Linked DNA regions of Homo sapiens: regions 2 and 3 are each linked to region 1. Evidence: fine-mapped expression QTL. A gene starts in region 1. Each other region holds a variant in brackets. All regions are shown on one strand. Distances are between the middles of the regions.

What was found. PIP is the estimated chance that this variant, and not a neighbour inherited with it, causes the effect.
Region 2: its variant is fine-mapped to the expression of ZNF544 in whole blood (INTERVAL, PIP 0.94).
Region 3: its variant is fine-mapped to the expression of ZNF544 in whole blood (INTERVAL, PIP 0.98).

Annotation. Positions count from the first base shown.
Region 1 is chr19:58,227,567-58,230,327 of GRCh38, reverse strand. ZNF544 (zinc finger protein 544) reads right to left here and starts at 1,414. Exons shown (of 7, transcript NM_014480.4): 1 at 1,382-1,414; 2 at 758-860. RefSeq lists an enhancer at 712-1,538.
Region 2 is chr19:58,284,928-58,287,688 of GRCh38, reverse strand. ZNF8 (zinc finger protein 8) reads right to left here. Exons shown (of 4, transcript NM_021089.3): 2 at 1,846-1,972; 3 at 1,484-1,579. It overlaps ZNF8-ERVK3-1 (ZNF8-ERVK3-1 readthrough (NMD candidate)), which reads right to left. Exons shown (of 7, transcript NR_144447.1): 2 at 1,846-1,972; 3 at 1,484-1,579. Among named protein-coding and RNA genes, the nearest start is that of ZNF8-ERVK3-1, 7.3 kb to the right of the region's middle. The variant T/G (reference allele first, on the strand shown) is at 1,711.
Region 3 is chr19:58,205,550-58,208,310 of GRCh38, reverse strand. ZNF274 (zinc finger protein 274) reads right to left here. Exons shown (of 8, transcript NM_133502.3): 5 at 1,109-1,591. Among named protein-coding and RNA genes, the nearest start is that of ZNF544, 22 kb to the left of the region's middle. The variant A/G (reference allele first, on the strand shown) is at 1,431.

The sequences.
Region 1 (2,761 bases):
CTTAACATTGTGTTAACCTGCAAAAGGGGCACAACACATGTATTCATAGTGATTATACTTGGACATAAAATTCCCCATCTGTTCCTCATACTGGACCTGTATGGTGGCTGATCTGGCAGAAGTCCCTCTGGCTGCAGGGCTGGGGAGGGAGTTGCTTTCTCTTTCCTTTTCCAGTTTTCTCCTTCCCTGCTTGTGGGGTGACGTTTCCAATCTGCTCCAGGTTACGTGTCCAGCCCAAACCTCCTGGGCTTCCTGCCACTGCCATTCCCTCCTCCACATTCAGCCATGTCACCCACATGCTCCTCAACTCCCATGCAGAGACTGACCAGGCATACCACATCTTCCTTGCACTGTGACTTCTACCCTGGCTCCACGCTGGAAACAGAAACACAGTCTTCCTCCACTCCTTCCTGTCTTTTGGCATCCCTCCTTACACGGAGTCATTTCCACAATCAGATGTTTCCCTACTCCCTTAGACTCTTGAAATCCAACCCCATGCCTTCCTCATTAGCACTGCCTTGTACGGTCCCCATCAAATATCACCCAACACAAATGGAACCCCGATCCCTAACTTACAGGCGTTACATACACATCCCATCCTGTTCACCTCTGTAGTCTCTCTATGGGGTGCACCAGCATCGCTTAACCAGTGCAGGCCCCCAACACCCCAGTTACCCCTGCCCTGCGTGGACTGGCCTTAATCTTCTGTTCACTTGGAAAATACACATGTTCTCTGCAAGGTTCAAGCTTCACGTACCATTGGAAGAAAATGTGTCCACGTCTGGAGCTGGGATGACCTCTGGGGTCCAATAGGCGTCACCTGCCTGGTGCCGCTGTGCCAGGAGGCTCTTGGCTGCCACCTGTGGATAAGCCGCAGAAGATGAGTTGAGGGAGGAAAAAGGAGCCGGGAGAGGCCCGCTGGGTCGGCAGCCCCAGAGCTCCAGACGCCAGCCTGAATCCCCCGCCCCTGCAGCCCTCGACCCAGGCACCCTCTGTCGGGAGGGCCCACCCAGTCCCACCCAGTCCCACCCAGTCCCACCCAGTCCCACCCAGTTCCACCCCTGCCCGTACCTGCGAGGTACTATAAGTTCCCTCCCAGCTCTGCAGCAGGAGAGCCTCCCGACAAGCTCAGACCCAGCCGGGCGCTCCTGCAGGGGAAACCTGACTGGACCGGCCTTCCCCGTCCCTGAGGCCGGAGAGATCCCGATCCCATCAGGCCCCTGCCCTTGCTCGGCCTCGCCGCATGAGGGACCCCCGCAGGCCCTGCTCGTTTCTCCGGCACGCCCAGATCACTTGGGGCGGCTCTGGCCTGGTCCTGCGCTCCGGCCGCACCCGGCTAACAGTGAAACCTCCGAGCCAACCTTGAGGCCGCCAGACTCACCTGCACGCACCGGCCAATGGCGGTGCTTCCGGTGGCCGGCGGACGTGCCCGCGCTCCGCGCAACAAACAACTCCCAGAAGGCCGCGCGCCGGTAGCCGTTGCTCCCACAGGCATAGTCATTGCCGGCGGGAGCATGGGGCCCCGCGGCGGCGGGATGAGCTTTTTCCTGTGTTCGCGACTAGCATTGTGGCTTAGGGAGTTGCTTCCCGCGGCTCTGCTCCTTGCAGCGCCTGTCCCCTCCCCCTTAAACGGGCCACGCTGGTTCTCATCCAGCAACCGAAGCCGAGACTGTGGAGGCGGCGGTCGGCGTCCAGGGCGGGACTAGCGCCTATGGGGCTCGGCGCTGTCATCTCGGGTGCCTTCCCGGCGCCTTGCCCTGCTGGGGAGAGAGACCAAGACTGAGCCATGAGAACAGTCCAAGGCCGTTAACCGGGAGCTCAGGGGCAAGGGCGCCCGCCAACATCTGCGCCTGTGGCAGGGACTCAGGGACAGCCTGGGCGTGGGGACGCGTCCTAGTGATAGAAACAAAGCCCCGGGAGTGCCCTGCTTGGAGCATTCCGAGTGGAAGGTGGAAGCACGCTAACTGGAGGCGATTCGTCCTAGGTGATCGCTCAGTCGAGCCTATTTGGCTTTCTGTGGTAGCTCCTAAGTGGGACAGGGAAAAAAATAGGGAGGCTGGCAGTGACCAAGTTCTGTTTTGTACCTATTGCTGCAGAAGTTGTGGGACAGAGTTCTGTTATTATAAATGGTCTGATGTTCAGTCTCAGTGCGTTGTGGGGCTCAATGTCTGAGACCCACCACCGCCTGACCCGTCCTGGCTCTTCAATGAGGGAGACCACAGGAAACTTTCCTACGAAGGCCAGGTAGGCGGGAACCACTGTGGCTCAGGCACCCTCAGCTCCTGGACTGTGCTTTTGTGTCTGGGGTGCATCTGTGACTAGCCTTCCTTGGCTTGACTGTTTTGTAGCTGACCTTGTCGATAGCTTTACCCAACAGTCATCATCTTTTTACTTGCTTATTTTCATACCTGGCTAGCACGACCCTGCAATTTTTAGATTCTTCCGGGAAATCTAGAATCTAACTCCCTAAGGGAGGATCTTGATGGATTCTAAGCTAATCAGAATGGACTCAAGCTTCTTGCTGTGTGAATTAGGCAAGGATATTCTGGCCAAGGAGAAATAAGGCTGCTAGGGGTTTCCTGGGAAGGTTCCCTCAGTCTTTTTTTTTTTTTTTTTTTTTTTTTTTTTTTGTGAGACGGAGTCTCGCTCTGTCCACCAGGCTGGAGTGCAGTGGTACGATCTAGGCCCACGGCACTCTCCGCCTTCCGGGTTCACGCCTTTCTCCTGCCTCAGCCTCCCGAGTAGCTGGGACTACAGGCGC
Region 2 (2,761 bases), 57 kb before region 1:
GCCTGTGCAACGGAGTGAGACTGTCTCAAAAAAAAAAAAAAAAAAAAAAAGGCCAGGTGCAGTGGCTGATACCTGTAATCCCAGCACTTTGAGAGGCCAAGACAGGAGGATTGCTTGAGCCCAGGAGTTTGAGACCAGCCTGGGCAACACAGTGCAACTGTGTCTCTACAAAAAAATTTAAAAAGAAAATTAGCCAGGTGTGGGGGTACACACCTGTAGTCCCAGCTACTCAAGAGGCTGAAGCAGGAGGATCATTTGTGACAGGAAGGCTGAGGCTGCACTGAGCCATGATCACACTGCTGCCACTCCAGCTTATGCAACAGAGACGGTCTCAAAAAAAAAAAAAAAAAAGCTGGGCATGGTGGCTCACGCCTGTAGTCCCAGCACTTTGGGAGGCCAAAGTAGGTGGATTGCTTGAGCCCAGGAGTTCGAGCCCAGCCTGGCAAGATGGCAAAATCCCATCTCTACTAAAAATACAAAAATTACCAGGGCGTGGTGGTGCATGTCTGTAATCCCAGCTACTCGGGAGGGTGAGGTGGGAGGATCATTTGAACTAGGGAGGTCAAGGCTGCAGTGAACCGTGATTACGCCACTGCACTCCAGCCTAGGCGATAGAGTGAGACCCTGTCTTAAAAACAAAACAAAACACAAAGAATCTGGACATGCAAGAATGAAATGGAGAAGATGAAGGGCAGGTTCACATATTAGAAATGATGCCACAGAAAGGACATGCTGAGAAGGATGGTGAGAGAGGGAATGACCTGGAACCTATAAGGGAAGATGAAGCAGAGAGGGAGGAAGGGGTGGGATTCTCAGCACTGGAGCACAGGTGATGACCTCTGAGCTTAGAAGATGGGGAGCACAGGTGAGAAGGCTATGGAGCACTGTGCAGAAAAGATTTAACAGGGCAGGCCTGAAACCAGCATTCTTAGGAGAAGCCTATTCACAAGGTTAGCCTTTGGCTGCAACTGAGAATTTGGATTTGGGGATGGTTCCCACAACCCTAACTGATGAGAGTGGTTTACTACACCCACACTGCACACACTATGTGGTTTATTCCAAACACTGGCTTTCTCCTGGTAGTCTGGAACCTTGGTCTGTGCTAGGCAGAGAGTGTCTATGTGGCAGCCTCAGTCAAAACTCCTAGCACTGAGTCTCTTAACAAGATTCCCTGGTAGAGCTCATGTCTCATGAGGTGTCACACCTGAGTGCTGGGGGAGCCTGGCACATCCTGAATGACTCCACAGTGAGGGGACTCTGGAGGCTCATGCCTGGCTTCCTCTGAACTTATCCCCACGCGCCTTTCCCCTTTGTTGGTCTCATTATACTGAGAGCTGTCAGCATGACTCTATGCTGAGTCCTGTATACTCCTAGTGAATGGGGTGGTCTTCAGGACCACCAACCACCACCCTTTCCATGAAGTGCATCTCCAGTGACCTGCTAGGCTGCTCCCATTAGCTGCTCCCACATAGTGGGTTCTCACCTGGATGGCAGCCCTGGGTGGTTCCTCTCTCAGCCACCCATAGCTCGGTCCCTTGCTCCAGCTGGGAGATGACTTCAGGCTTCGGAAGCTCAGGACCTGGAAATGGGGAAAAACACAGGAGGTGAGGGGCTGCTCAGGAGAGAAACAACAAGCCCAGGCTCCAGACCAGACTCCCGACTGTGAGGACACGTGGGCACCTCACAACATGGTGAAGCTCTGCATGGTGA[T/G]GGAAAAGGGCAGACCTCCCTCTTCATGCACTCCCCATAGGGAGTGAGGACCCAAGGTCAGGTCCTCACACCAGAGGCCCCATGACTTATAACCCAGAGAGAATCAGCTATCACACCTTGCGAAGCAGGGCTTACCTATGGAGAGCAGGTGACCAAAGGTCTCCAGCATCACGTCACGGTAGAGGATCCTCTGGGTAGGGTCCAGCTGCCCCCATTCCTCCTGGGTAAAGTCCACAGCCACATCCCGGAAGGTCACTGGTTCCTGAAACATCACACACATTCTCAATCAGCTGGACTATCTCCATCAGTGCTTTCTGGCAGAGGAAGAATGGAAAAGGAGAAAACAGGCAGGCCTGTGTCACGAGAGACTGCACGTTATGAATGATGGGAGTCAGGTCTCACTGGGCACCTATTAGGCCACTACACATAGGTGTGGGTTGTACAGTGAGGACATGTGAGAGGACTCACCAAGATCAACAACGCCAGGCAGAGCTGACCTACATCTAACAAGACAGACGAGGGTACCAGCAGAGACTGGCCTAAACCACTTATTTGCAGGTTTGTGAGCTAAAGAAACAGTTACTGTTTTAAGTAAAACAGATACTGTTTTAGGACAGTGTTACACAGCAGCTAACTAATACACTCACTAATACTTAGATACAAAGTGAAATTGGCTGGGCCACATGCCTGTAATCCCAGCTACTTGGGAAGCTGAGGCAGCAGAATCGCTTGAGCCCAGGAGGTGGAGGTTGCAGTGAGCCAAGACACCACTGCACTCCAGCTGAGGCGACAGAGTGAGACTCCATCTCAAAAAAAAAAAACAAAAAAACAGGTTCACCATCCTTCCTGAAAAGAGAAGCACACAGGGCTGGGGTCAGAAATTCGCCTGCTTTCAGGGCAAGGCAGGCTCACATGACAGAAGTGGGCCAGTTTAAGAGCCCACAAGGACACTTACCTATGAGTGGTGGGACTGGAGGTGATGGGGAGCATGGACCCTGTCTGAAGGAGCAGCAGGGACTCAGAACTCACTGATTACGGGAAAATACAGGTC
Region 3 (2,761 bases), 22 kb after region 1:
TGCTGCCTCGGATACCCGATCTCCAGGATGCCCTGGCCTCTTAGAATCCCACCATCCCCCTGCAGGATACCTTCCCCTTTCCTGCAATCACAAACATCAACCAGTCAATCATTCGTTCACATCAGAAACATCTTCTGGGCACCCGTGAAATGTGGAAAATGGAGGTGAGCAATGCAGAAGCATGCACGCTCTGTGAAACTCAGCCTGATGAAGAAACCAAGTCTTGCAGTCTTATTCCCAAATACACACTCCACACGTGTAGTCTCTCCCCAGTCAGACATCACCATCACTCCTATCCAAGACACCACCCCATCAGAGGGCATGGCAATAGCTGCGGGTAGCCTGTGTCCAGCCTCGCCCCCATCCTCTGTCCACCATCCACCACACATGCAGCCTGGTAAATCTCTAAAGGTCAAATCCAGTGGTGCCACCAGTTTCTGGAACTCAGGGATCGAGCCCTACTGTTTTAGAAGAACATTTTGCTTTGCTTTAGGACTAAAGTCCCCACTGGCAGTGCCAGCTCCAACCTCTGCTCCCTTCCATCACAAACATAACCGATTTTTCTGAGTTTTGCATTTACTGTGATCCCTTCCATCTTGGCCCTTACAGGCAGTGCTCCCCTCTGCATGGCACATCTTTCCTGCCCCCTTTCTTTACCCTGGCCAAGTTCCACTCCACACCAGGTGTCAGCTGCAGACCTTCATAAGCCTCACCATCACCTCGAGCTCCTCATAGTCCCAGCATTTTTCTATGCATTCTCATTTGTCAAATCCCTGTCTCTCCTGCTACTGCGGGCTCTCTGAGCTCAGTATTCCCATCTATCTTATCAAGTGCTACAGGGCTTATGGTGCAGCAGGGATGCCAGAGGGATAAAAATGAAGCACTTCATCTGTGTGCTTCCATCAGAAGCCCACGAAGGGCTAAAGAATGCAAGGGTTTCAGTGGCTCTGACTCAGGAACACGTGGGCAACATGGATGTCCTTGGTCTGTATGGAGCGGACACAATCCTTCCCATGACCTTCCTAGGAAGCCTGGAGTTCTTATCTCCCCCACAGGGTACTCCAAGACACCCTCATTAAGCTGTCCCTCTACCCACCCTTCTACTTACCTTCCTCCTCAGACATCCAGGTCACACCCTCTACCAGGGCCACCACCTCTTGGCAGTTCTCTGGGTGCTGCGATTCCACCCATGTCCGGAGCTTCACAGGCAGTGCACCTAGGAACTGCTCCAGCACCAGCAGCTCCAGGATCTGCTCCTTGGAGCGTGCCTTAGGCTGTAGCCACTGGTGACACAGCTCTCGGAGCTGGTCCAGGGCCTCCCGGGGACCTGTCATGTCCTTATAACGGAACTGCCGGAACCTCTGGCGCGCGGCCTCAGGGTCACCTGGATGCTTGCCCTGCTGTTGGACCTGCTCACTGGGGGCATCTGC[A/G]CTCAGGCTTCCATCTTCAGCATATAGGGCCTGGATCTGGGCATTCCGGGGACCAGCCACCTCCTGGTTCAGTGTGAGGACCTCAACAACCTCAATGTTCATTAGGGGACTCTCAGCAGGAAGAGGATCCAATTTAGGGTCCAGCTGGAGCTCAGGATACTCTGTAAGTCAAAAGCAGAGCAAGACAAATGAGAACAAGCACATGAAAAGATGCTCAACGCCATTATTCACTAGGGAAATGCAAGTCAAAACCACAGTGGAATATGCTTCAAACCCACTAGCATGGCTGTTACCAAAGACAGATGATAACAGGAGAGGATGTGGAAAAACTAGAATGCTCACACACTGTTGGTGGGAACATAAAATGCTGTACCACTCTGCAAAACAGGTTGGTAAATCCTCAGAAGTTAAACACATAGTTATCCATGACCCAGACATTCCCCCCAAGTATATATAGCTAAGAAAATTGAAAGCATATGTCCCCAAAAACTTCTATAAGAATGTTCACCAAAGTGTTATCCATAATAGCCAACAAGTACAAATAACCCATTGTCTATCAACTGAGGGATGTATAAGCAAATTGTGATCTAGTCATATAATGAAATATTGGCAATAAAAAGGAATGAAGTACTACTAATATATGCTACAACACAGGTGAAACTTGAAAACATCATGCTAAGTAAAAGAAGCCAGACACAAAAGGCCACATATTATATGAAATGTCCAGAATATAAAAATCCACAGACAGACAAGTAGATTAGTAATTGTTAGGAAATGGAGAAATTGAGAGGATTGGTGGGAGACTGCTAATGGGTATGCGGTTTCTTTCTTGGGTGAAGAAAATGTTCTGGAATTAGACAGTAGTGACAGCTGTACAACCCTGTGAATATATTTAAAAACACTGAACTGTACACTTTACAAGAGTGAACTTTACAATGTGTGAATTATATCTCCATAGAGCTGTTATAGGGAAAGAACAAAAGGCAATGAGGGTTGAGAAGGGATCTGTGACACTGTACATGTATGCATGGTCACAGGAAAAAGAACCTTCTCCAACCTCCACTGGGGACAAGAACGAGGATATATGGGAAAGGCAGGGGCTCTGGGTCCTGGCACAGAGTCCACAAGAGCACATTGCTAAACTGAACTCCAGGACTGTCCTGAAATGCTGAGGAGGCAGCACAAAACAAGAGGAAACAAGAAAGCTCTCTAAAACTCCCCTTCAAAATGCTAATTCTAAATAATTTGGCCAGCGGGGTGGCTCACACCTGTGATCCCTGCACTTTGGGAGGCTGAGGCAGGAGATTCGCTTCACGCCAGGAGCTTGAGAC